Homo sapiens: one gene and its partners. The protein of the gene in region 1 interacts with the protein of each later gene in a pairwise test. Each region holds a gene or a part of one and is shown in the gene's direction. Other genes may lie near its edges.

The links.
Region 2: the proteins of KIAA1328 (region 1) and MTMR9 interact in binary tests that used the Homo sapiens proteins (3 or more experiments, as listed by UniProt).
Region 3: the proteins of KIAA1328 (region 1) and CFAP206 interact in binary tests that used the Homo sapiens proteins (3 or more experiments, as listed by UniProt).

Annotation. Positions count from the first base shown.
Region 1 is NC_000018.10:37,062,381-37,071,068, forward strand, and holds part of KIAA1328 (protein hinderin), read left to right. Parts: intron 1-4,487; exon of another isoform or gene 4,488-4,509; coding exon 4,510-5,165; intron 5,166-8,688. UniProt on the Homo sapiens protein: Competes with SMC1 for binding to SMC3. May affect the availability of SMC3 to engage in the formation of multimeric protein complexes.
Region 2 is NC_000008.11:11,301,178-11,309,865, forward strand, and holds part of MTMR9 (myotubularin-related protein 9), read left to right. Parts: intron 1-3,663; coding exon 3,664-3,837; intron 3,838-5,012; coding exon 5,013-5,230; intron 5,231-8,349; coding exon 8,350-8,511; intron 8,512-8,688. UniProt on the Homo sapiens protein: Acts as an adapter for myotubularin-related phosphatases. Increases lipid phosphatase MTMR6 catalytic activity, specifically towards phosphatidylinositol 3,5-bisphosphate and MTMR6 binding affinity for phosphorylated phosphatidylinositols.
Region 3 is NC_000006.12:87,459,334-87,466,015, forward strand, and holds the end of CFAP206 (cilia- and flagella-associated protein 206), read left to right. Parts: intron 1-1,688; coding exon 1,689-1,832; intron 1,833-4,686; coding exon 4,687-4,917; 3' UTR 4,918-5,132; downstream 5,133-6,682. UniProt on the Homo sapiens protein: Essential for sperm motility and is involved in the regulation of the beating frequency of motile cilia on the epithelial cells of the respiratory tract. Required for the establishment of radial spokes in sperm flagella.

The DNA of each region.
Region 1 (8,688 bases):
GATAACTGCCCATCTTTCTCACCACCACATTCAGTTTTGAAATAGATGTGGTTTTTTTTGTTTTGTTTTTTGTTTTTGTTTTTTTTTTTTGAGACAGAGTCTCACTCTAGAGTCGCCCAGGCTGGAGTGCAGTGGCGCAATCTTGTTTCACTGCAAGCTCCGCCTCCTGGGTTCACGCCATTCTCTTGCCTCAGCCTCCGGAGTAGCTGGGACTGCAGGCGCTTGCCACCACGCCCAGCTAATTTTTTATATTTGTAGTAGAGACAGGGTTTCACCGTGTTAACCAGGATGGTCTCGTTCTCCTGACCTCGTGATCTGCCTGCCTCGGCCTCCCAAAGTGCTGGGATTACAGGCGTGAGCCACCGCGCCCGGCCAATAGATGCATTTTTTAATCCCTGTTTTACTGGTGAGGAACCTGAGTAAAACTGGTGTTTTACTGGTGAGCAACCTCAAATTGCTTAGGCAATTTGAGTAATGTGCTGTATTAGTTTTATAGTGCCGTGTAACAGATTACCACTAACCTGGTAATTTAAAGCTATGCAGATTTATTACCTCACAACGGTTTCTGTGGGTCATGAGTATGGGCACAACTTAGTTGGGTCCTCTGCCTAGGTTCTTAACAATGCTGCAATTAAAGTTCAGCTGGGCTGCATTCCTTTTTTTTTTTTTTTTATACTTTAAGTTCTAGGGTACATGTGCACAACGTGCAGGTTTGTTACATATGTATACATGGCTGCATTATTATCTGGAGCTCAAGGTCCTCTTCCAAATTCACATGGTCATTGGCAGAAGTTAGTTTCTTACATCTATGTGATACATGTCCCATTTACTTACTAGCTGTTGGCTGGAGACTGCTTTCTGCTCCAGATGTTTTTGCCACTTGATTGGCCCGCCCACAACATAGCAATTTATTTCTTCATGGCCAGCAGAAGAATCTCCAACCTTATGTGGGGTGGGGGATGAGGGAGCAGGATAAGACCTTCTTTTAAAGGGCTTACCTGATTAGATCAAGCACACCCAGGATAGTCTCCCTTTTTATTAACTCAAAGTCAACTGATTAGGAACCTTAGTTACATATGAAGTCTGTTTTGCCATAAAATGTAATATAATCTCAGGATTTATATCCTGTCATATTCACAGGTCCTCCCTACACTCAAGGAAAGAAGATAATAAAAGTTGCGTACACTAGGGGGTGAGAATCACGGGGAGCATCTTAGAATTCTGCCTATTACACATGCACAGTAACCAAGCAGGTAATTGACAGAGCATTGCTCTCTAGGCAAAGCATTCGTTAAAATCATTAAGCTGTACTACCTCTCAAAAACAGGAAACATTAACTGAAAAAAATTTTTTAATTTATTCCAAATACTTGATTTTGTGGATAATTTCACAGTTAGTACCATTAAAGTAAGTGTAGAATATGTCAGTACCTAAAAATGGACATATGTAAATAATGTTATGAAACAAAAATGAGACTATAAAACCTGGATATGAATATATAATATAAAATATTTAAGTTTCTGGATCTTTTAAAAACTTACCTGTCATTTGAAATATATATATATATCTAGTAATTTCTGACCTTTTAGTAAAAGATAGTTTACCATACTAAGTAGCAGGTGATAAATGTTAAATGTTTGTACTGGCAGTAAGTACTATAGAAGTTCAGAGTAGGAGAGATTAATGTAGACTAGAGATTCCCTTTAGATGTAAAATAAATTAATTTTTTTGTGAAGTAGCTTATTAGAAATTTTGCCTAGCGCTGGTTCATATTCTATTGCTTGTCATCTGTTTGCTGTACAGGATTGCCTGTGTTCTTTGAAGAAGAGCAAGTCTTCTCTTCATTCTCATTTAAATAGAAATCCTTTAGCATTACTACAGTCATTCAATTAAAATCTTAATCACTGTAATACCCTTCATTCTTTTATCATAGGATAAGAAACATGATGTTGCTGTGTATCTCTGTTAGTTGATACTTTTTACCCATCAGTCCATCATTTGCAACTATTGCGAAATAAATTGGTGGGATTTTTCTCCCCTTATACTAGGGATCTCATTTATTCTCATTCATTTGTTTTATGTCTGTGGAGTAGCTAGCTATTTCAATTGTTTTAAATTACTTTTTATTTAAAAATAGGCATGGTAGACTGAAAGTACCCCCCCCCCCAAATATGACCATGTCTTAATTCCCGAATGTCACGTTATGTGTCACAAGGGACTTTGTAATGCAAGAGACTTTGCAGATGTGATTAAGGCTCTCGAGAGGGGGAAATTAACTGTATTACCCAGGTAGGCCCAATCAAATCCAAGCGGTCCTTCTAAGAAGGAGCAGAAGGAGTCAGAGGAGAAGGCAGTGTGTGATGATGATGGAAGCAGGAGTTGGAGTGACACACCGTGAAGATGGAGGAAGGGCTATAAAAGTGAGAAATACAGGTGGCCACTAGAAGCTAAAAAAGGCAAGGAAGCTGATTCTGTCTTCAGAGCCAAAGGAACTAGCCCTCCCAACGTCTTGACTTCAGCCCAGTGAAACAGATTTCTAATTTCTGACTTCCAGAATTGTAAGATAATACATTTGTGTTATTTTAAGCCACAAAGTTTGTGCTAAGTTGTTATAGCCACAGTAGGAAACTAATACAGTAGTTGTAATATATTTGTTTACTGAAAAACTCATATTTCTCTTGCAGCATTGAGCAAATAAGCTTCCCCATAGCATGCAAATAATTGTGTGTGAAAAGTGAGACTATTTCAGAGGATATGGATAGAAGATTAAGAATTTTTGCTTGTTTGGTTAATATAAGTGTTCAATACACAGAAGATTTTTTGGATTTGTTTGAATAGAAATAGAAAATGGCAAGAAAGTACAGTGTTAACATAAGTGGGCCTTGAATGAAAGCCTGAGGGAAGAGGAAGTGTTAGTGGAAGCTGTCAGATATTTCACTTGTTTAGGTCTGCTTAGTTTCTTTCTCTTACCTTCTCTTTAGCTTTCACTAAAGACTGAATCTGTATATCTAGAGTAAATAGGCCTTGGAAAACAAGGCCTCTCCACAAGTGGATTTGTTCCTTTCAGATTTGTGTTAAAGGTTATACTCTGGCTGCTCAAAAGAAATAACAGCTGCTAGGAATAACACATTTTCAAACAACCCATCTTGCTAGTTAAGTAATTGGACTTGGAGGCCCTTTTTTGCTGTGCTCCAGATCTAAATTGAAGGGAAGTTTTTATGTTATAAAGGGCTACCCTTGGAAGAGTCTGATCGTTAGCTGGATTCATTTTCAGAAATGCACCTCCTTCAGTTTAGTTTGATTAAGTTTCTTTCTTACACATTAATATCTTTCATTATTTTGTTAATTACAAGTGTCTACCTTCATGGGCAAGTTGCTCATTTGAAACACATGCAACATTTACATTAAACTATAATATTTCTGTTTGGACAACGTGGAATCTAGATACACCATGTTTCTGAAATACACTGTGAAGAAAAGCTGCTTAGTTATACTAAGTCAGCGATGTTCAGAGATGAGCTAAGTATAACAACTCAACCTTCCCAGGCCAAGCTCAACAGTAAGGCAGATGGAGGTGTTCCATGATATAGACCAATAGTTTTCAAAGTGTGGTCCCAGATCAGCAACATGAGCAAATTCTCTGACTCTGCTTCCGACAGAAAGATTTGGAAACTCTGGGGATGAAGCTATAGTTTCATGTTTGACAAGCACCCTTCAGTTTATTCTGCTACACATTAAAGTTTGAGAATCATTGATACAGATTAAGTTTTGTTCTCGCTGACAGAACAGACTTACAGCTAAAATGTTGGAAAATCTGACTCTATTGACATGTCAGAGATAATTTGCAACTGCTTCCTTTCTGCCCGAGTTCTATCAGACTAATCACTTGAATAGATTGAAAAATCACTTATGTTTGTAGATGAAATTAAGTATTTTTTGTATTTAAATAACGCTTTTGATTAGAATCCTATTTTGTTGAAAGTGGTTGGTTTTATCTGTGTTCTGTAAAGATAGTTATAAAACCTCATCAAGATTCTACCAGTAAATCACATTCTATTCAGTATAAGGTGAAATGTTTTACATCAAGTCTCATGCTGTGTAATGGCCAAAGAGTATTTAAAGTGACTGAATGGATTCCTTGGCTCAGTATTCAAAAGTAAACATTTTACGATGTTCATGTTTAAGGCTTTCACCTCTTCTCAAAATTGACTTTATGTAACTCTCTTTATTTGCAACTCCAGAAATCACCAAAGATCATGCTTAAGCAACATGTAGCAGCAACTTATTTTTCTTATCTTTATATAGATTTACTGAAGGGTAGGTTGTTTGAAAATGGATGTAGCTTTGGGGCACAAGTCTGTTTAGCTGTGTGAATGCTATAATTTAATATTTAAGACAAAACAACAGCTTTGGCTTGGTAAATATATATCACTGATTTCTGAAAAACCAAACGAAAGAACTTGTTTTGTTGTGTTCTTATTTGACAGGTGATCTTGTGGTTCTTTCTAGGTATCCAGTAGAAAAAGCACTCTCCAGTGTTCATCTGTGGAACTGGATGGTTCCTACTTGAGCATAGCCAGACCACAGACCTACTATCAAACCAAGCAAAGACCTAAGTCTGCAGTCCAGGATTCAGCTTCAGAATCCCTTATAGCATTTAGGAATAATTCTTTGAAACCAGTAACCCTTCATCATCCCAAAGATGATCTAGATAAGATACCATCAGAGACCACAACATGTAATTGTGAATCTCCAGGGAGAAAACCTGCAGTCCCAACAGAGAAAATGCCACAAGAAGAATTGCACATGAAGGAATGTCCACATCTTAAGCCTACTCCTAGTCAATGCTGTGGTCATAGACTTGCTGCAGATCGTGTTCATGACAGCCATCCTACAAACATGACCCCTCAACATCCTAAGACACATCCAGAATCATGCAGTTATTGTCGGCTTTCTTGGGCATCTCTGGTGCATGGTGGTGGGGCACTGCAACCCATTGAAACTTTGAAAAAGCAGATCTCAGAAGATAGAAAGCAGCAACTGATGCTTCAGAAAATGGAACTGGAAATTGAAAAGGAGCGCCTTCAGCATCTGCTGGCCCAGCAGGAGACAAAGCTTCTTCTAAAACAGCAGCAGCTTCACCAGTCTCGACTGGATTACAATTGGTGAGTACTGCCTGTTCTTTTTTTTTTTTTTTTGAGACGAAATCTCGCCCTGTTGCCCAGGCTGGAGTGTAGTGGCACAATCTCAGCTCACTGCAGCCTCCGCCTCCCGAGTTCAAGCAGTTCTCTGCCTCAGCCTCCCGAGTAGCTGGGATTACAGGCGCCCGCCACCATGCCCGGCTAATTTTTGTATTTTTAGTAGAGACGGGGTTTCACTGTCTTGGCCAGGCTGGTCTTGAACTCCTGATCTCATGATCCACCCGCCTTGACCTCCCAAAGTGTTGAGATTACAGGCATGAGCTACCGCGCCTGCCCAAGTCCTGCCTGTTCTTTTAGCAATGTCTGTAGTTTGGAGAGCACAGTGTAAAATTGTTGTAATACTATAGCAGATGGGTAGAACCAGAGGTTTTTCTGGATCTTGGCTTACTCGAGATGCATATCAGTTATGTCTACTAAGTAAATTCCCCTTTATTCTTTGGAAGACTTCAAAGATTACCTTGTCTTCCAAATTGATAGCTTAGAATATCTATTTCTGAGCAGTCTGGTGTAATTTTTGCTGGGTTCCAAAGACATTTTAAAATGATCTTGCCATTATGCAGAATCCTTTGCTGTTTGATATCATTGTGGACAATATTAGGCATTAAGTAAAAGCTTGAGATTTCGGGGTGTGGAATTAGATTGTAAAGCAGTGAGATTAGCTGTCATCATTCCGAATTTATGTCTACCCACCATAATATAAAATATAACAAGTGATGGGAGTCTTCTAAATTCAACCCTTTCTGGCCATGAAGCATGACCTGTTGAATGATGAATTCTCATACACCTATCCACATGTAGGCTGTTCTTCCCTTAACAATTCTTCCTAAGAACAGTGCTTCAAAAGATAAATTGCTGTTTTATTATTATATAATGTTTCTTTACTCCACATCCTTGTTGGCATTTGGTATTCTCATTAATTTTTATTTTACCTCTTCTAATACGTGTATAGTGACATTTCATCGCAGTCTTAATTTGCATTTCACTAATGGCTAGTAATGTTGAACATCTTTTTGTGTGTGTGCACGTTTGCCCTCCTATCTTCTTCAGTAAATTCTCTCTTCAGTATTGCCCATATTCTAATTGGATCATTTGGGTGTTTTGCTGTTTGGAGAGTTCTTCATATCTTCTAGATATATGTCTTTTGTCAGATATGTGAATAGCAAATATTTTCTCCCAGTCTGTAACTTGTCTTTTCTTTTTTATCTTTAATTTTTTTTTCTTTTGGTAGAGACAGGCTCTCACTCTGTTGCCCAGGCTGGTCTTGAACTTAAATAATTATCCCACCTCAGCCTCCCAAAGTGCTGGAATTACAGCCACTGCTGGAATTTGAGCCACTGCTCCTGACTCTGCCTTTTTAGTTGCTTAATGAGATCTTTCATAGAGCAGAAATTTTTAATTTTAATGAAGTCCAATTTATCTTTTTTTTCTGTTACGGATTATATAAAGTTTTATCATAGGTGTTGAATTTTGTCAAATACCTTTTATGAATTTTGTCAAATATCTTTTATGATCATGTGATTTGTCTTATTTGCCCTGTTAATATGGTGAATTACATAGATTTTTAAATATTAAACCAGCCTTGCATCCCTGAAATAAACCCCACTTGGTCATAATGTATGATTTTTTAAAATGTTACTGAATTCCATTTACTAATATTTTGTTGAGGATATTTGCATCAGTTTTTTTTTTTTTTTTTGAGACAGAGTCTTGCTCTGTCACCCAGGCTGGAGTGCAGTGGCATGATCTTAGCCCACTACAACCTCCACCTACTGGGTTCAAGGGATTCTCATGCCTCAGCCTCCCAAGTAGCTGGGATTACAGGCGTGAGCCACTGCATCTGGCCTATTTACATTAGTTTTGATGAGGGATATTGTTCTGTTGTTTTCCTTTTTCTTTTTTCCCCTGTGTCCTTGTCTTGTTTCGGTATCAAGGTAATGCAGGCCTCATAAAATGAGTTGGGAGATGTTCGCTCTGCTTCTGCTTTCTGGAAGAGATTGTGTAGAATTGGTGTTAATTCTTCTTTAAATGTTTAGTAGAATTCTCCAGTGAAGCCATCTGGACCTGGAAATTTATTTTTTGAGACTTTTTAAATTCCAAGTTTAATTTCCTTAATACTTACAAGGCTATTCAAATTATCTATTGGATAATCTGCCTTGCCACAGGTTTGTTCATTTTAATTATCTTTCAAATAACTGGGTTTTTGTTTCATTTAGTTTTTGTTATTGTTTTTCTGTTTTCAATTTCATTGATTTCTGCTCTTTATTATTTTCTTCCTTCTGCTTGCTTTAAATTTACTTTGCTCTTCTTTTTTCCTAATTTGTTAAGGTGGAAGCATATTGGTTTGAGACTTTTTCACTTTTCTACTGGAAGCATTTAGTGCTCTAAATTCCCTTCTCGGCACTGATTCAGCTATGTCCCACAAATTTTGATATGTTGCATTTTCATGTTTATCCAATTCAGTGTGTTTTTGGGGTATCTTTTGAAACTTCCTATTTGACCCATGGGTTATTTAGAAGTGTTATATTTAGTTTCCAAGTTCTTAAAGATTTTCCTGTTTTCTGTTTCTGATTTCTAGTTTGATACCACTGTGCACACATAACACACTGTATGTTTTTCATTCTTTCAGACTTATTGAAGTTTGTTTAAGGACCCTAGGGCATGCTCTATCTTGATATATGTTCCATGATGTTTGAAAAGAATACGTATTCTGCTGTTGGGTGGTGTGTTCTGTAAATTGTATCCTATTATTTGACAGTATTGTTGAGTTCTTCTATATTCTTGCTGATTTTCTACCTACTTCTATCAATTATTGACAGAGGCGTTTTGAAATCTCCAAGTACAATTGTGATATATCTATTTTTCCTATTAGTTCTATTAGTATTTGTTTTAAATATTTATACTTCTGTTCTTTGCTGCTTATGCATTAAGTTTGCTATGTCTTCTTGGTAGATCGACCATCTTTTCACTATGTAATGTCTTTCTCTGTCCCCAGTAATTTTTTTTTTTTTTTTGAGACAGAGTCTCTGTCGCTGAGGTTGGAGTGCAGTGGCACCATGTTGGCTCACTGCAACCTCCGTCTCCTGGGTTCAAGCAATTCTCCTGCCTCAGCCTCCCGAATAGCTGGGATTACAGGTGCCCACCACCATGCCCGGCTAGTTTTTATATATGTATTTTTTAGTAGAGATGGGGTTTTACCATGTTGGCCAGGCTGGTCTCGAACTGCTAACCTCAGGTGATCCACCTACCTCGTAAATTTTTTATCTAAAGTCTCCTTTACCTGATGCTAATATAGCCATTCTTACTTTCATTTTATTAAGGTTTTCAAGATGTGTGTTCTTCCATCCTTTTACTTTCACCCTATATATGTTGTGATTTTGAATTCAGTTTCTTAGACACAGCATTTGAGTCAGCCAGTTTCTTTTAATTGGTATGTTATGTTCAGATATTTCCTTTTTTGTTTTTGATTTTTTTCTTCCTTTTTTTTTTT
Region 2 (8,688 bases), on another chromosome or scaffold:
CAAATTTTATGGAAATGCAAATTTAAATATATAAGTTTATATGGAAAGTCAAAACAGCTTTGAGAAAACACTTGATTACTGTAAAGCCACAGTAATCAAGAGAGTATGGTATTGCTGTAAGCGAAGACATACAGACCAATGAAACAGAATACAGGGTACAGAAATAAACCTTCCCCTTAATGCTCAGTTGATTTTTGACAAAAGTACCAATACAATTCAATTGGGAAAGGATAGCTTTTTCAACCAATAGTATTGGAACAGTTGGATATCCATATGTAAAAAAGATAAACCTAGACCCTTACCTCACATCATCCACAAAAATTAACTAAAATGTATTATGCAACTAAACATGAGAACTAAAACTATCAAACCTCTTTAAGAAAGCACAGGAGAAAATCTTTATGACCTTCAGTTAGACAGAGATTTTTTAGATATGACACCAAAAGTGACTGAAAGCAGGTTAGTGATTTCCTAGTATTGGGTGTTACACAGGTGTATACAACTGTCAAGACTCATGAAATTGTGTAGTCAAAATGGATTCAGTTTATTTTTTATAAGTTTTGTCTCAAAGTTGACTAAAAAGAAGATAAAAGAATAATCTAATGCAAATGTTAAGTAGCTGATTAGAAACAGCTTAGGAGAAAATAAGTGATTTGAAATATAGATCCGAAATAATTACTCAGAATATGGAACAGAGAAGGAAGATGGAAAAACAGAGAGGTTAGACACATGCATGCTTAATAAAGGAAGAAGATCCAATATTTATTACATGGGAGTTTAGGATAAAAGATGATAGAGGCTGGTTATGGTGGCTCACACCTATAATCCTAGCACTTAAGGAGGCTGAGGCAGGCAGGTCACTTGAGCTCAGGAGAGTTTGAGACCAGCCTAGGCAACATGGTGAAACCCCATCTCTATGAAAAAATTTAGCTAGGTGTGATAATGTGTGTCTTTGGTCCCAGTTACCTGGGGGTCTGAGGTGGGAGAATGGCTTGAGCCCAGAAAGTTGAGTTTGCAGTGAGCAGTGATAATGCCGCTGCACTCCAGCCTGGGTGAGAGAGCAAGACCCTGTCTCCAAAAAAAAAAAAAAAAAAAAAGAGGAAGACAAAAAAAAAAAAAAGGTGATGATAGAAGAAAGACAATATTCAAATGCATAATGGTTGATAATTCTCCAGAATCAGTAGAAGTTATTGAACCCTTAAGCTGAGGTATCCCAGCAAATACCATACAAGATAATAAAAAAATCTTTAGACATGTTGTTGTTCAGCTACTGAACAATAAAGCAAAGAAAATACCACAAAGTTAAAAGACAAATGACCTGCATGGTGTTAGATTAACAGAGGAAAAAAGTTTGATCAATATCTATTTATGATAAAAGCTCTTAGAGTTGGATTTGAAGGAAATTTATTTAATCTGATAAAGGATGGGTACCAAAACCAAAAACATAAAAAAAGCAAATCTTGTATCATTCTCTCTAAGTTCAAGAATGAGGCAAGGATGTCCATTGTGACTACTTCTAGTCAGCTCAATAAGACAAGAAGGAAAAATACAGGGTATAGGGATTGAAATGAAGGTAGCAAAATTGTCAATATTTATTGATTATATGCTTGTCTACATAGGAAAAGGAAAGAATCTTGAGATCATAGGCATTTCTGTACACCAAACACAATTTTGAAGAGATGCAGTTAAAATGCAACAAAGATTATTGGGTTTCTAGGAATATATCTAAGAAAAGATAGTAAGACCTTTATTGAGAGAATTATAAAAATTTATGGAAAAAATTTTGAAAGCTTAAACAAATGGAAAAGACAATATACTCATGGATAGAGAGACTGAATATTCTAAAGATGTAAGTCATTCCCTCCGATTTATAAAGTCAATACAATCTTAATAAAAACCCCAGTTGGTTTTTATATTGAATTTGATAAAAGTTGCATGGAAGACCAAAAGACCAAGAGGAGCCACGTTACTCTTTGAAGAACAAAAAGGTGAGAGGAGGACACTTGGCCTACTAGATACCAAACTTATTTTAAAAGCTATAGGAGTTACTAAAGTGGACAAGTGCGACGGGATGGAGAGCACAGTACATTTGGACCAACAGAAGCGGCATTGCAGATCAATGGAGAGCCCTGTCATTCTCCAGAGTAGGAAATCAATAATAATATATCATAGTGAAAGTTCAAGAAATAACAGTATTATCATGTTGTTTAGAAATGTAAAGGTAAACACTGAAAAAGCTAAAAATGTTGAAAATGATTGCCTTTGGGGAAAGCAAATTGGGATGGGCTAGCAAGGAACAGATAACTACATTTTTTTAAAAATAATAAATCTTTAGAAACTGTGTTTTTTTTAAATTAATTAATTAATTATTTTTTGAAACAATCTCACTCCAGTTGCCCAGGCTGGAGTGCAGTGGCGCTGTCACAGCTCACTGTGGCCTCGACTTCCTGGGCTCCCGTGATTCTTTCACCTCAGCATCCTAAGTAGCTGGAAATACAAGTGTGTGCCACTGTGCCTGGCTAATTTTTGCATTTTTAGTGGATATGGGGTTTGGCCATGTTGCCCTGGCTGGTCTTGAACTCCTGAACTCAAGCAATTTGCCTGCCTTGGCCTCCCAAAGTGCCGGGATGATAGGTGTGAACCACTGTGCCCAGCCTAGAAACTATGTTTTTAAACTGGTAACATAAATAACTTTGAAAAGTGAAAAAATTTAATTAAAAATGTGATACTGTATCTTATAAAAGCATTTTTTAAAAGTAATAATCTTGTCTGTTAGTACGTCTAACATACTTTTTAGCTTTATCTTCCTGCTATTGTAACCCATGGTTAGGCCAACTCAGATATACAGAACATATTGAAATTTACATATAATTTGATTTTTTTTTTTTACTGTAAAACCTTTTGACAGTGTTCAAGCTGTTTTTAATTCTGATGTTTAAAATAAGTTGTCATTTGATAGTTTTATATTGTATACTTCTAGTCCTTACTCAGTTTGAAATTATTTCATTGACTCCTAAGCTTAACCTTCCTTAGTATTGAGTTGGTACTGTTTTAAGAAAGGTGTTACCAATCTTAGTACATTTTTTACCTTTTTTAAAATAAACAAAGGGTTTGATATAGATAGTAGCTGTGTTCTCATTTGTTCTGGGGATGCATTATCTGGAGTCGTACAGTCTTACTTGTGCTTTAAGAGGATCATTAACAAACTAAATGGGACCCAGAAAAGGAAGAAGTAGGATGATGTTGGCCGTGATAATTGTGGATGTGCTTAATATATTTAACTTGGAGAATAGAACACTAAGGAGGATCAGCTGTCTTTCAAACATTTGATGGGATACCGTGTAAAATAGGGAACTTGTACGGTGTTGTCTGAAAGTACAGTAAAAACCAATAGAGGGAGCTACAGAGCAACAAGTTTTGCTCAGTGTGAGAAAGCACTTTCTGGGAACTGGTGATACCTAGCAATGCAGGAAGCTGGCCCTGAACCATAGAGCTCCTTTTCTCTGCAGCTACTTACATATAAGCTAGAGATCCACCTGTGAAATTCCTGAGAAATGGCTTCTTCATCAGTGAAAGTTGACCTCTAAGGTCTTTTAAAATTTCTCAGATTATTTTGCGACATTGAGATAGTTGCTTAGCTTTGAAGTATTTTGTGTTTTTCAGACCAGTGAATGGAGGCTAAGCTATGTCAATAAGGAATTTGCTGTCTGTCCCTCTTACCCACCAATTGTCACAGTGCCCAAATCCATCGATGATGAAGCTCTTCGGAAGGTAGCTACATTTCGACATGGAGGGCGCTTCCCAGTACTAAGCTATTACCACAAAAAAAATGGGATGGTAAGTGCACAGCACTACTGCTTGATGTACTGAAAGGCTTGGGTTGGGGATCTTTTCGTAGAAATGTTCCCTTTTGCTCTCTGTCTGTTCACTGAAATGATTGTCCAGGTCTCCACCACAAGGGCTTCCTTCATGTAAGCTTTAGGGAATCAGGAGTAGGGTGTTTTCTGTGGTGAGGATGTGATGCTGAATTCTTTCCATGATCCTGCTCAGCCGTATAAAAGCCCTGATAGCTTTATCTCCAGGACACTATACAAAGGAAACTAGTGTTTATTTGATGCTTACAGCAACATTCTTCTGGTAGAAAAATGAGAAATTTCTCTGTTCAGAATAATGGTAAAATACTTGAATTTTTCTTAACAACTTTACACGTGAAAGGTGGAGCAGACGTATTTATTTTCAAAGGTGAAAAGAGTGATGCTCATGTCATTTAGTCACAACTCTAGTAAACACTGGAGTCAGGATTAAACAAGGAGTTAAGATAACTACCTTGTAATGGTGGCGTCTTGAAAGAACTCTAAACCATTCGCCAGGGAAGAGATTAGTATAATAGACATTGATTTCTAGAGAAAAGTTTCAAAAGCAAACATTTCCAGATGTATAGTTGGTGGGGTAGTTTTTAGAAACAAGTAGTTAAATCCTTGAATACTGAAAAGGATGGTAGAGGCCACTGGAGAATACATAATAGACAGTCAGCTTCTGAGGTAGTGAAAATGATTTCCCAAACAATGAGAACAGTGTTTGAACTTTTAAATTTTGCCACTGGTGCCTTTACTTCTTATAATTGTTGTTAAAACCTGCCAACTCTATGTATGTTTAGTTGAAGTCAAGGTTTACTGGCTCATAGGCCATTATTGTCTTTATTACAGGTCCAGGTCTACAGGTATTTGATTCACACACTAAATGAATTGCAATATTTGATCTTAAAGAGGAGATATAATTTATTATGTGACAGTATTTTGAGACAGAGAAATTGTGTAAAAGCTTAAGGCTTATCTTTTATAGTTATTAACTATTGTCAATACATGCAAATATTTCTTTGTTTATGGATCAAATCCATCTGCAGAGTGTCACACAATTGTTTTTGAGATACTCTTAATCTAGCTAATTTCTTTCTGTTTTCAGAAACTTTAAAAGCAACTGCTGTTGAATTTTCAGCTTTATTATGCTTCTAGGTAATTATGCGAAGTGGTCAGCCACTCACTGGTACAAACGGGAGGAGGTGCAAGGAGGACGAGAAGCTGATAAATGCTACCCTCAGGGCTGGAAAGCGTGGCTACATCATTGACACCCGATCCCTGAACGTGGCTCAGCAAACTAGAGCCAAAGGAGGTGGCTTTGAACAAGAAGCTCATTATCCTCAGTGGAGGCGAATTCATAAGTCCATTGAGAGGTAAAAGATTCCAAAGATAGTACAGACTCTTATTAGAAGCTAATTATAGTGGGTAAGGCCTTAGCCATTTGAAAATCACAAGTGCTCAAATTAACTTCTGCATTAATTTAGGGTCAATGATGGGCTAGCCATCTTCTCATTTTTTTTTGGTCAGCTCTATTAAGGTTTGATTGACAAATAAAAATTACATGTATTTGTGATGTACACTGTGCTATTTTGATATACATATACATTGTGAACTGATTAAGTGAATTAACCTATCACGTCGCATAGTTATCATTTTTTTGGATGGTGAGAACATTTAATATCTATTCTCTTAGCAGTTTTCAAGCATACAATATATTAGTTTTAACTACAGTTACCATGCTGTACAATAGACCTACAGAACTAATTCCTCCTAAGTGAAACTTTGTTGTTACCTTTGATCAACATGTCCCCATATCTGTGTCCCTCCTACCCCGACCCCTCCTGCTACTTTCTCTTCCTCTGGCAACCACCATTCTACTCTCTGTTTCTATGAGTTTAACTTGTTTAGATTCCACATATAAGTGAGTTCATGCAGTGTTTATCTTTCTGTGCATGGGTGCCTGACTTATTTCATATAGCATGATGTCATCCAGGTTCATCTGTGCTATTGCAAATGACAGGCTTCCCCTCTTTTTTATTTTTATTTTATTTTTTTGGGATGGAGTCTTGCTCTGTCAGCCAGGCTGGAGTGCAGTGGCACGATCCCAGCTCACTGCAATCTCTGCCTCCCAGGTTCAAGTGATTCTCCTGTCTCAGCTTCCCAAGTAGCTGGGACTACAGGTGCCTGCTACCACGCCTGGCTAATTTTTGTATTTTTAGCAGAGACCAGGTTTTGCCATGTTGGTCAGGCTGGTCTCGAACTCCTGACCTCAAGTGATCCTCCTGCCTCGGCCCCTCAAAGTGTTGAAATTACAGGCATGAGCCACTGTGCCTGGCCTACCCTCTTTTTTAAGGCTGAATAGTATTTTATTGTGTATTGTACCACATTTTCTTAATCCATTCATCCATTGACGTGCATTTAGGTTGAATCCATATCTTGACTATTGTGAATAGTGCTGCAGTGAACGTGGGAATGCAGATACCTCTTTGAGATCCTGATTTCGTTTCCGATATTCAAAATATTTACCCAGAAGTGGGATTACTGGATCTTATTGCAGTTTCATCTTTAATGTTTTGAGGAGCCTCCATACTGTTTTCCACAGTGGCCATACTAATTTACATTCCCACCAGCATTGTACAGGGGTTCCCTTTTGTCCATATTCTCAACAACAGTTGTTAAATCTTGTCTTTTTAGTAATAGCCATTCTAACAGGGGTGAGGTGATATCTCATTGTGGTTTTGAATTTCATTTCTCTGTTGATGAGTGATGCAGAGCATTTTTTTTTTCAAATACCTATTGGCCATTTATATGTCTTCTTTTGAGAAATGTCTGTTCAGGTCTTGCCCATTCTTTAATCAGGTTTTGTGTTTTCTTGCTGTTGAGTTGAGTTTCTTACATATTTTGGATATTAACCCCTTATCCAGTGTGGTGTTCACAAATGTTTTCTCCCATTCCATAGGTTGTCTCTTTACTCTGTTGATTGTTTTGCTGTGCAAAACTTGTTAGTTTGTTCAGTCTCATTTGTCTATTTTTGCTTTTGTTGCCTCTGCTTTTGAGGTCATATCCAAAATAACTTTTCCCAGACCAATGTCAAGAAGCTTTTTCCTTATGTTTTCCTCTAATGATTTTTACAGTTTCAGGCCTTATGTTTAAGTCTTTAATCTACTTTGAGTTGATTTTTGAGTATGGTGTGAGGTAAGGGTTGAGTTTCTTCTGCATGTGCATACCCAGTTTTTCCACCACCACTCATGGGAGAAGCTCCTTTCCCCATTGTATGTTCTCGGCAACTTTTTCAAACATCAATTTACCATAAATGCATGGATTTATTTCTGGGTTTTATTCTGTTCCATTAGTCAATGTGTCTGTTTTTATGCCAGTGCCAAGCTGTTTTGATTACTTTAGCTTTGTAGCATATTTTAAAATCAGGTACTGCGTGAGGCCATCAGGACCAGGGCTTTTCTTTGATGGGAGGTCTTTTTAATCTCCTTACTCATTATTGGTCTGTTCATATTTTCTTTCTTCATGACTCAGTCTTGGTAGGTTGTATGCTTCTAGGAATTTATCCATTTCTTCTAGATTATCCAGTCAATTTGTTAATGTGTAATTGTTCACAGTAGTCTCTTATGATCCCTTGTATTTCTGTGATATCAGTTGTAATATCTCATCTTTATTTCTGATTGTATGCATTTGCATTGTTTTTCTCTCTGTTTTTAGTGAAAGAACCTTCAGCTAAAGGTTTGTTAGTTTTATCTTTCTTTTTGAACAGCCAGCCTTTGTGTTTGATAGGCGAAAGCTGTGCTCTTGGAGGCCTGCAGGAGTCCCTTTCACTAGCATTCTTTCTCTAAGCCAACCCTGTGGTCTCATCACCACAAGGCCAGCTCCTCTGCAGGTAGATCAGCAGTTGCTACACTGAACAGATTTGCTACATATACTTATATTTTCCTAAGTCAAAGACTTTAGAGATTTAATTTCTCCCCATATCGACCTATTTTCGCACAGTTTCCTCCACCTATTGTCTCTTGTTTGTACTGTAAAAGAGTGATTTATAAGTGTCTCTAGGTGGGTGAATGGGAGCTGTAGCTAGAAAACAGTGGGATCCAAGCTGGGTTGGGTAAGGCTGCTGATGGCACTGGGTCTCTAGTGTTAGATCGGTGGGAACAGGATTGCAAATGTAAGTGGTGCTGTGTCTCCTGACCTGTCATGAAACGCAGGGCTCTGGCCTCTCCTATAGTCAGATAATCCAGGTATGTGAACTGGGTTTAATCTGTTCAGGTAAGGAATACGTTACCATGGCAGGCATTTTAAGCCTTTGCAACAATGTTTAAATATTAGTTTTTCAACCTTTAATCCTCAAATTATAGCAGGGTAAATATTTTTATAGTATTTTGAACTACTTTTGCTCTTAGATATGTTGGAGGCTGAATCTTTGGTTTGGTTTCTTTATCTTTCTATTTTCTGGGTTTGTTATTTTTTACTTTCTTACTTTTAAAAGGTATCACATTCTTCAGGAGAGCTTAATCAAACTTGTGGAAGCTTGTAATGACCAAACACATAACATGGACCGATGGCTCAGTAAATTGGAGGCCTCTAACTGGCTGACTCACATCAAAGAGATTCTGACAACTGCCTGCCTAGCGGCTCAGTGCATCGACAGGTAAAGTGCATTTCAGCGTTCCTGAGCGAAACATGGCGCTGCTAACTAGACTTTGTGTTTATCCAGACATATGTTTATAGATTATGTGAAAGTTTGCAGTAAATTACTGTGTAGGCTAGTCAACACCATCCCATTATTGATGAGGTGTGTGCCTAGAGTCTGGCATTTAATAGATAA
Region 3 (6,682 bases), on another chromosome or scaffold:
TTTCTACTAATTCCCTCCATGACCTCTCTGTCAGAAAAATTGTGAGTTATATACTGGTTTTAAAATACTTGTTCTATATGCTCTAGTCTTCTATTTGTTAAAAGATAGTTTTCAGAAATGGGTAAAATTATTGTCATGCAGATAAGCAGATATAAAAGTCAACATGTGTTAAGAGTAATCTATTCATTAATCAATGAGGGGACCAGGTAGATGTTATAACCAGTTCAAAAGAGAACCCTAAGAACAGACACATTTATAGATCAGGAATATTCAAATGAATGTGTAAATGGAGGCAATGCTGATTTTTCCACATGGGGAAAGGGAAGTCAGTTGAACGTCTACAGACAGGATATACTGTGCATGTCTACAGACAGAAATTATTTGGTCTTGCTATCACTCACTTATAACTTACAGAGTTGTAAGATACCCCAAGGACAGTGAAAGGCTAGAATCAGACGACTGGAAAGGTATGTTGTATGTGGATAATGCCTCGTTTTCCACTAAAGCATAATTTTTTCCTATACACCTGGTCTTGTTTTTTCCTGTCTTTCTGGATATTTAATTCCCACCTGTTCTTCAGTGACCTTTAATATCTGCAGAAATGAGTTTTATCTCTGTCTTTTTCATGTAGTCCTTGCTGTCTAATTTACTTGCCATTTACTTGTATGGTACAGTATTATTAACTATCTTTTTAGCATTTTTAAAATCTACCTAAATATATCATAAGATAATTTTATAGTCAGAAATTATATCAAATGTTAGACACTCAGTGATTATCTGTTGTTTGGAAAGAATATCTTCTCCCTCCTTTTTACTGTGACCTAAGTACCTTAAACCTCTACCACTCCCTCCAACAACGTCAACAATGTCATGTCCAGCACCATCATGTCTTGTTTAGCCTGGAATTAGTGAATTCTTAATATTGGGTTCCCCAAAAGAAAATCAGTATATTCAACTAAAAACAAAGCAAAAACCTTGGATAATAACCTGCTATGTATGCATAGCTTGAGTTCAACATATGTCTTAAAGAGGTTTTGATAGTTCAAATAGATGTGATTTTTACCTAATAAAGCTATTTTCAATTTCTATCCATTTTCAACAGGTATTTACTCATGTTATCAGTTGTGCAAAGTGGGGAGGGATATTTGACTTGGGAATGAGGGATGTTTTCTCCTTCCAAAATACATGTTCTACAGAAAACCAAACACTGCATGTTATCATTTATAAGTGGGAGCTAAAAATTGGGTACACATGGACATAAAGATGGGACCAGTAGACACTGGAGACTGCAACAGTGGAAAGAGTGGGAGGGGGGCATAGGCTGAAAAATGAACTAGTGGGTACTGTGGTCACTACCTGGGTGATGGGTTCAATCCTGCCTCGAATCTCAGCATTGTGCAATATACCCTTGTAACAAACCTGCACATGTGCCCCCTTGAATCTAAAATAAAAGTTAAAAAAAAACACCCCCTACATTAACAAAATCACGAAGCCATAATTCCCAGAAAAACAATTATATTCAGCTCATTAATTATGTGTTTATTTTCTTTATTGGTATTTACAAGTATATTCCATGTCCAAAAATTATTGTTTTTTAAGTGTTTTGTTAGTTTTAGCTAAATATTTTAGTTATCAGTAAATAATGTTTATTTTTTACAAGCACTAACTACAAAACTCCACTTCTTTAGATGAGAGATGCTGACAAACATTATATAAAACCAATTACAAAATGTGAAAGTAGCACACAGACGAATACACACATACTGCCACCAACGATTGTGAGATCATATGAGTGGAATGAATGGGAATTAAGAAGAAAAGCTATAAAATTGGTTTGTAACAATACTTTCTAGAATTATTTATATGTTGGGGAATTTTAATCTATTGTTACTCATAGAGTTGGTAAATTAAATTATTTATATAAAATAATGAGTTTTATACAGAGTTCTTTGCTAACAAAAATATAATTTATAACTTGCTAGGTTTACATTATAAGATTGTCTTCTAATTTTAAGCATATATAGAACAATGATAATATCTATATATCTATCTGTCTATCATCAGTTTTAAAACTTGGTGCTAGTATTTAAAGCACTCCCAACTTCCTTTAATCACTTAAGGTATACCATTCTTTTTTTTGTTTGTTTTTTGGACCTTTTCTATTAAAGCATAGATATTTTCCCCTCAACAACATATTATCTCCAGACCCTGGGCACTCTCATCCTTCTGATTCTCAGTCACCTTAATTACAATATAGATACCTACCCTTAAAGCCTGTCTTTGAAACTCTCATCCCTGTCCAACTGAGTGAAATTACCCCCACCATCCCCTCTTTATGGTATCTTGTCATTTTAAACAACAAATATTTATAGTATGGAAAAAATAAAATATTTTGTCTGTAGCCCCTTTTTAGTATATTTTATCCATCTCTTTAACTGAAATCAGGTGTGGAAATAAACAATGCCTACCCAAATGAGAACAAAGCAAGGCTATTTATTTAGAGCTTACTGTAGCAAGGGAGTCAGACACTGTCACTTGTGTTTGGTAGACTCAAAGCATGCAGGGGAGTGGGAAAGCTTTATAGTCAGAAAAGGGGGAAGCCTTCAGATGTTCTCTGATTGTAGTTTGTTAACATGAGAAAGCTGGAAGCAGGCTAACTAGAAGCAGGGCATTTTATGAGATTGGTTTGGTGAGCATATCTAGGTTTCTCTGGTTGGTCCTGAGTTGGGGCAGAAGGGGCCAAAAAATGGAGAAGTTGGCTAAGTCTTCAACATTCTGGGTCAACTGCTACAGCTATAGAGGTTGAGACTGGCTTCCCTGACTGGTTGATGTACAGGCTGCAAGTCAAAGAGTTCTATTGTCATATATGGTCTAGCCTTTGTCCATTTGTATATTCAGTCCATTTGTATATTCAGTCCCACTGACCACATTATTTCCTTTGCTACTCACTCTGGTGGCAGCTTTTCAGTTCCCTGGCATGAGGAAGGATCAGTTTCCCCATATATCTTCCAGATCATTGTTCCATTAGTATTCCTTCCTATCAGTTACTCTCCTGTAGTTCATGAAATGCCCAACCCCCATATTATTTTCTATTATCTACTAAACTCACTTGAGTTCATTAGATTTATTGGGTAACATATATATCCCACTACTTTGTTCTAGCAAGTGATACTGTTACATTAAAAATATTTCAGTACCTCCTTGTAAGTGGTACCTCCTTGTAAGTGGTGTAACAGAAGTGAAATGAAAATTCTACTAAATTAACATAGGTGATATTTTATGTTGCTTTTGAGATACAAATAGGCAAAGAGGAGGAGGGAAGTGATGGCTGGATAGGATAGGAGAGATAGAGGTGACAGCATAGGTATGGACTGGAAATGTTAAGAGAATGGGGTATTCAGGGGTCTGAACTTCATACTGACTGAGCCCTCTCTTCCCATTCCTCAATCTCCACTTAATTCTGACTCTCACCTTGGGCCTTATTATTCCCTAGAACTGTATTATATTGAATGCCAGCTCCCCAAGTGTCACCTACCTAACCTGTGGATAAGACAAAGCTGAGTTTATTGCTTACAGCCATAAGGGAAAACACCACCTCAACAGTGCTTTGGCAGTGTCTCAGAAGAGGAACTGCAAAGTCAGAATTGATTGAGAATTTGAAGTTTGCTAAGGCAGGTCTTCCAATGACTGAGGTGGACTGGGGGTAGGATGGAGGTTTGAATCGGATTGGGTAAGGATCATGAAAAAGCAGTCCAGCATTGGTGGGAATAGCAAGAAGATTTTTTGAGGCAAGGGATGCAGACTCTTAGGACTGAAACTGTGTTTTGATGCTTACTACTGAAGAGTTGACACATCTCTCAGGTACTACTGAAATGAGCAATCAAGTTATTTGCTTAGGCAAGAGTCTCTTGGAATGGTAAAATCATGCTAATGAAGACAATGGAATAGTAAAGTCATATTAATGTGGACAATAACCTGGGTATTGGGGAGTAGTTTCGGTTCTCAGTCACCTGCAGTATCTCAAACTCTGAAATGTTTCCTCTAATTCCAGGTGTCACCTTCTTCACTCACATGCTATAATGCCTTTTGAGTTTTTTCTTGGCTTTTACTATAAGTGCAGCAACCTTATTCTTCTTTTTATAAGCTCCTCCTTGCTTCCCAGCCTGAGTAATCTGTTTAACCTCATGTTTACTAATAATCTATAAAGGGAGTAAGCAAAATGTAGAATACTGTAAAATACAAAATGGAAAGCATCAGACTCTTTTATGTTAAAAATCTAGGGTGAAGTCCATTTTTAAAAGATAATACTGTATAAATCTTATATTTTTGTTAAAAGAAAACAAGTATAGTGGAAAAATCCAAGTTATATGAATCTCAAAGTATAATAATGAAGGAATTAGATTATATTAATAAATAACTGGTTGAGTTCACTGTAATTTTGAATCTGTATGTTTTTTGAGGTCAATTTTCAACATTTTACATATTTTTCTACGTCTTGGTAAGGGATATTTAATTTTCTATTATGTTCTAGATTTTCCAATGTTTTATAGAAAAAATGCTATGTTATGGAATTAATTTCTTGTGGATTGAAGACAAAAATAGGCAGATATTAACTGGTATCTGATAATATTTTATGTTATTTGTTCTTTAGAGAAATGTTAATTCCTGTATTCTCTTTCTCTTTAGGCTAATTTGCGCCAGAAAGTTACTCACTCAGTACAAACTGATCTTAGTCACTTGAGAAGAGAAAATTGTTCCCAAGTGTACCCTCCAAAGGACACTAGCACCCAGTCCATGAGGGAAGACAGCACTGGGGTGCCCAGGCCTCAGATTTACTTGGCTGGTCTTCGTGGAGGAAAGAGCGAAATCACCGATGAGGTCAAGGTGAACTTAACTAGAGATGTGGATGAAACCTAATTACAGACAACGTTTTAAAATAGATGCTACTCAATTATGAACAATAGCAAGTACTTAAAGGTATATTAACATCTATACAAATTAATTTTGTAGGGGTGGCACATTCATTGGTTGTGTGACTGTTTATTGGGTTCCCATATTTTATCAAACTGTTTTCTGTAACACATTTTTCATTCTGTTGAAATTGAAAAATAAAACTGTCCATTTATCTTTTATTTGTTAGAAAAATTTGTCAGCATTAAGATTGAAATTATGATAACATTTAGATATAAATATAAGATTATTACTGGAATAGAAGTCTATTTCTAAACCATATTTAATGTTAAACGTTACAAACTTAAAACCTAATCAATATTTTCAGCTCTGTTAGCTATTAAATGTTAACATGGATTAAACTGATATGTAACAAAACCTTACTAATTTGGAACAATTGGAGCAAAGGTCCACATGATGTTTTTTTCTTTCTTTTTTTTTTTTTTTTTTTTTTGAGACAGGGTTTTGCTCTGTCACCTAGGCTGGAATGTAGTGGTACAATCACAGCTCACTGCAGCCTCGACCTCCTGGGCTAAAGCAATCCTACCTTAGCCTCCTGAGTAGCTGGGACCACAGGCGTGTGTTACCACACCTGACTAATTTTTAAAACAATTTTCTGTAGAGACAGAGTTTCACCATATTCCCCTGGCGGGTCTGGAACTCCTGGGCTCAAGAGATCCTTTTGCCTCAGCCTCCCAAAGTGATGGGATTATAGGCATAAGCCACCATGCCCACCTCACATGGTGTTTTTCAAAATGTAGAAATTTGACATAAAATTTGTATTTCTGGCCCTTCAAAAAAAGAAGAAATCAGAATATCTGCTAACACTTGGCCAGCATTCCTGCAAGTAGTAGCTTTGCCCATTCATAGGGCAGGCACTTTCAATCCTCCATTGCCTAATCTAGTTCCTGCTGCCTTATGGGCCTCCCACGTCACTGCTTTGCCTTATTTGCCTGACTGCATAGGCAGTTGTGTTTAAAGCTCCCATGAATTGCTGGTAGCTATATTTTATAACTGTGGTTTTATTACTGTCTTACATACTTCTAATACCAATTCATGGATAATAAAGCTTCTAGGAAGGGCTGTTTATCTTGCTTTAGTAGCTAGGAGGTCATTTGTATTTGGCGTATTTTTTTCTGCTCAGGTGACCTTTTACTAAGGCATTTGTATAATTTGCTTTCTGTGTAGCTTAAATGTTTTTGTTTATTTGTTTTTGAGATGGAGTCTTGCTCTGTTGCCCAGGCTGGAGTGCAGTGGCGCGATCTCGGCTCACTGCAATCTCTGCCTCCTGGGTTCAAGTGATTCTCCTGCCTCAGCCTCCCAAGTAGCTGGGATTACAGGTGTGCACTACCACGCCTGGCCAATTTTTGTATTTTTAGTAGAGATGGGGTTTCACCATGTTGGCCAGGCTTGTCTTGAACTCCTGACCTCAAGTGATCTGCCCACCTTGGCCTCCCAAAGTGCTGGGATTACAGGTGTGAGCCACCGCACCTGGCTACTTAAATGTGATTTATACTATGAATATGCTTTCAAATCCATTTTCTGCATATAAACTTCAAACAAACCTACTTCTAATTTTTTGTGATTTTCATACCTGTAGTTTACAAATGATGTTTAAGATAGACTGGCTGGCTGTTAAGGCAGGGCCTGGAGGAGTGGGGTGATACTAAAATTTACAAATTCAGGAATGTCATTTTATCTGTTCAATTAACCCTTATTTGATTCTGCAAGA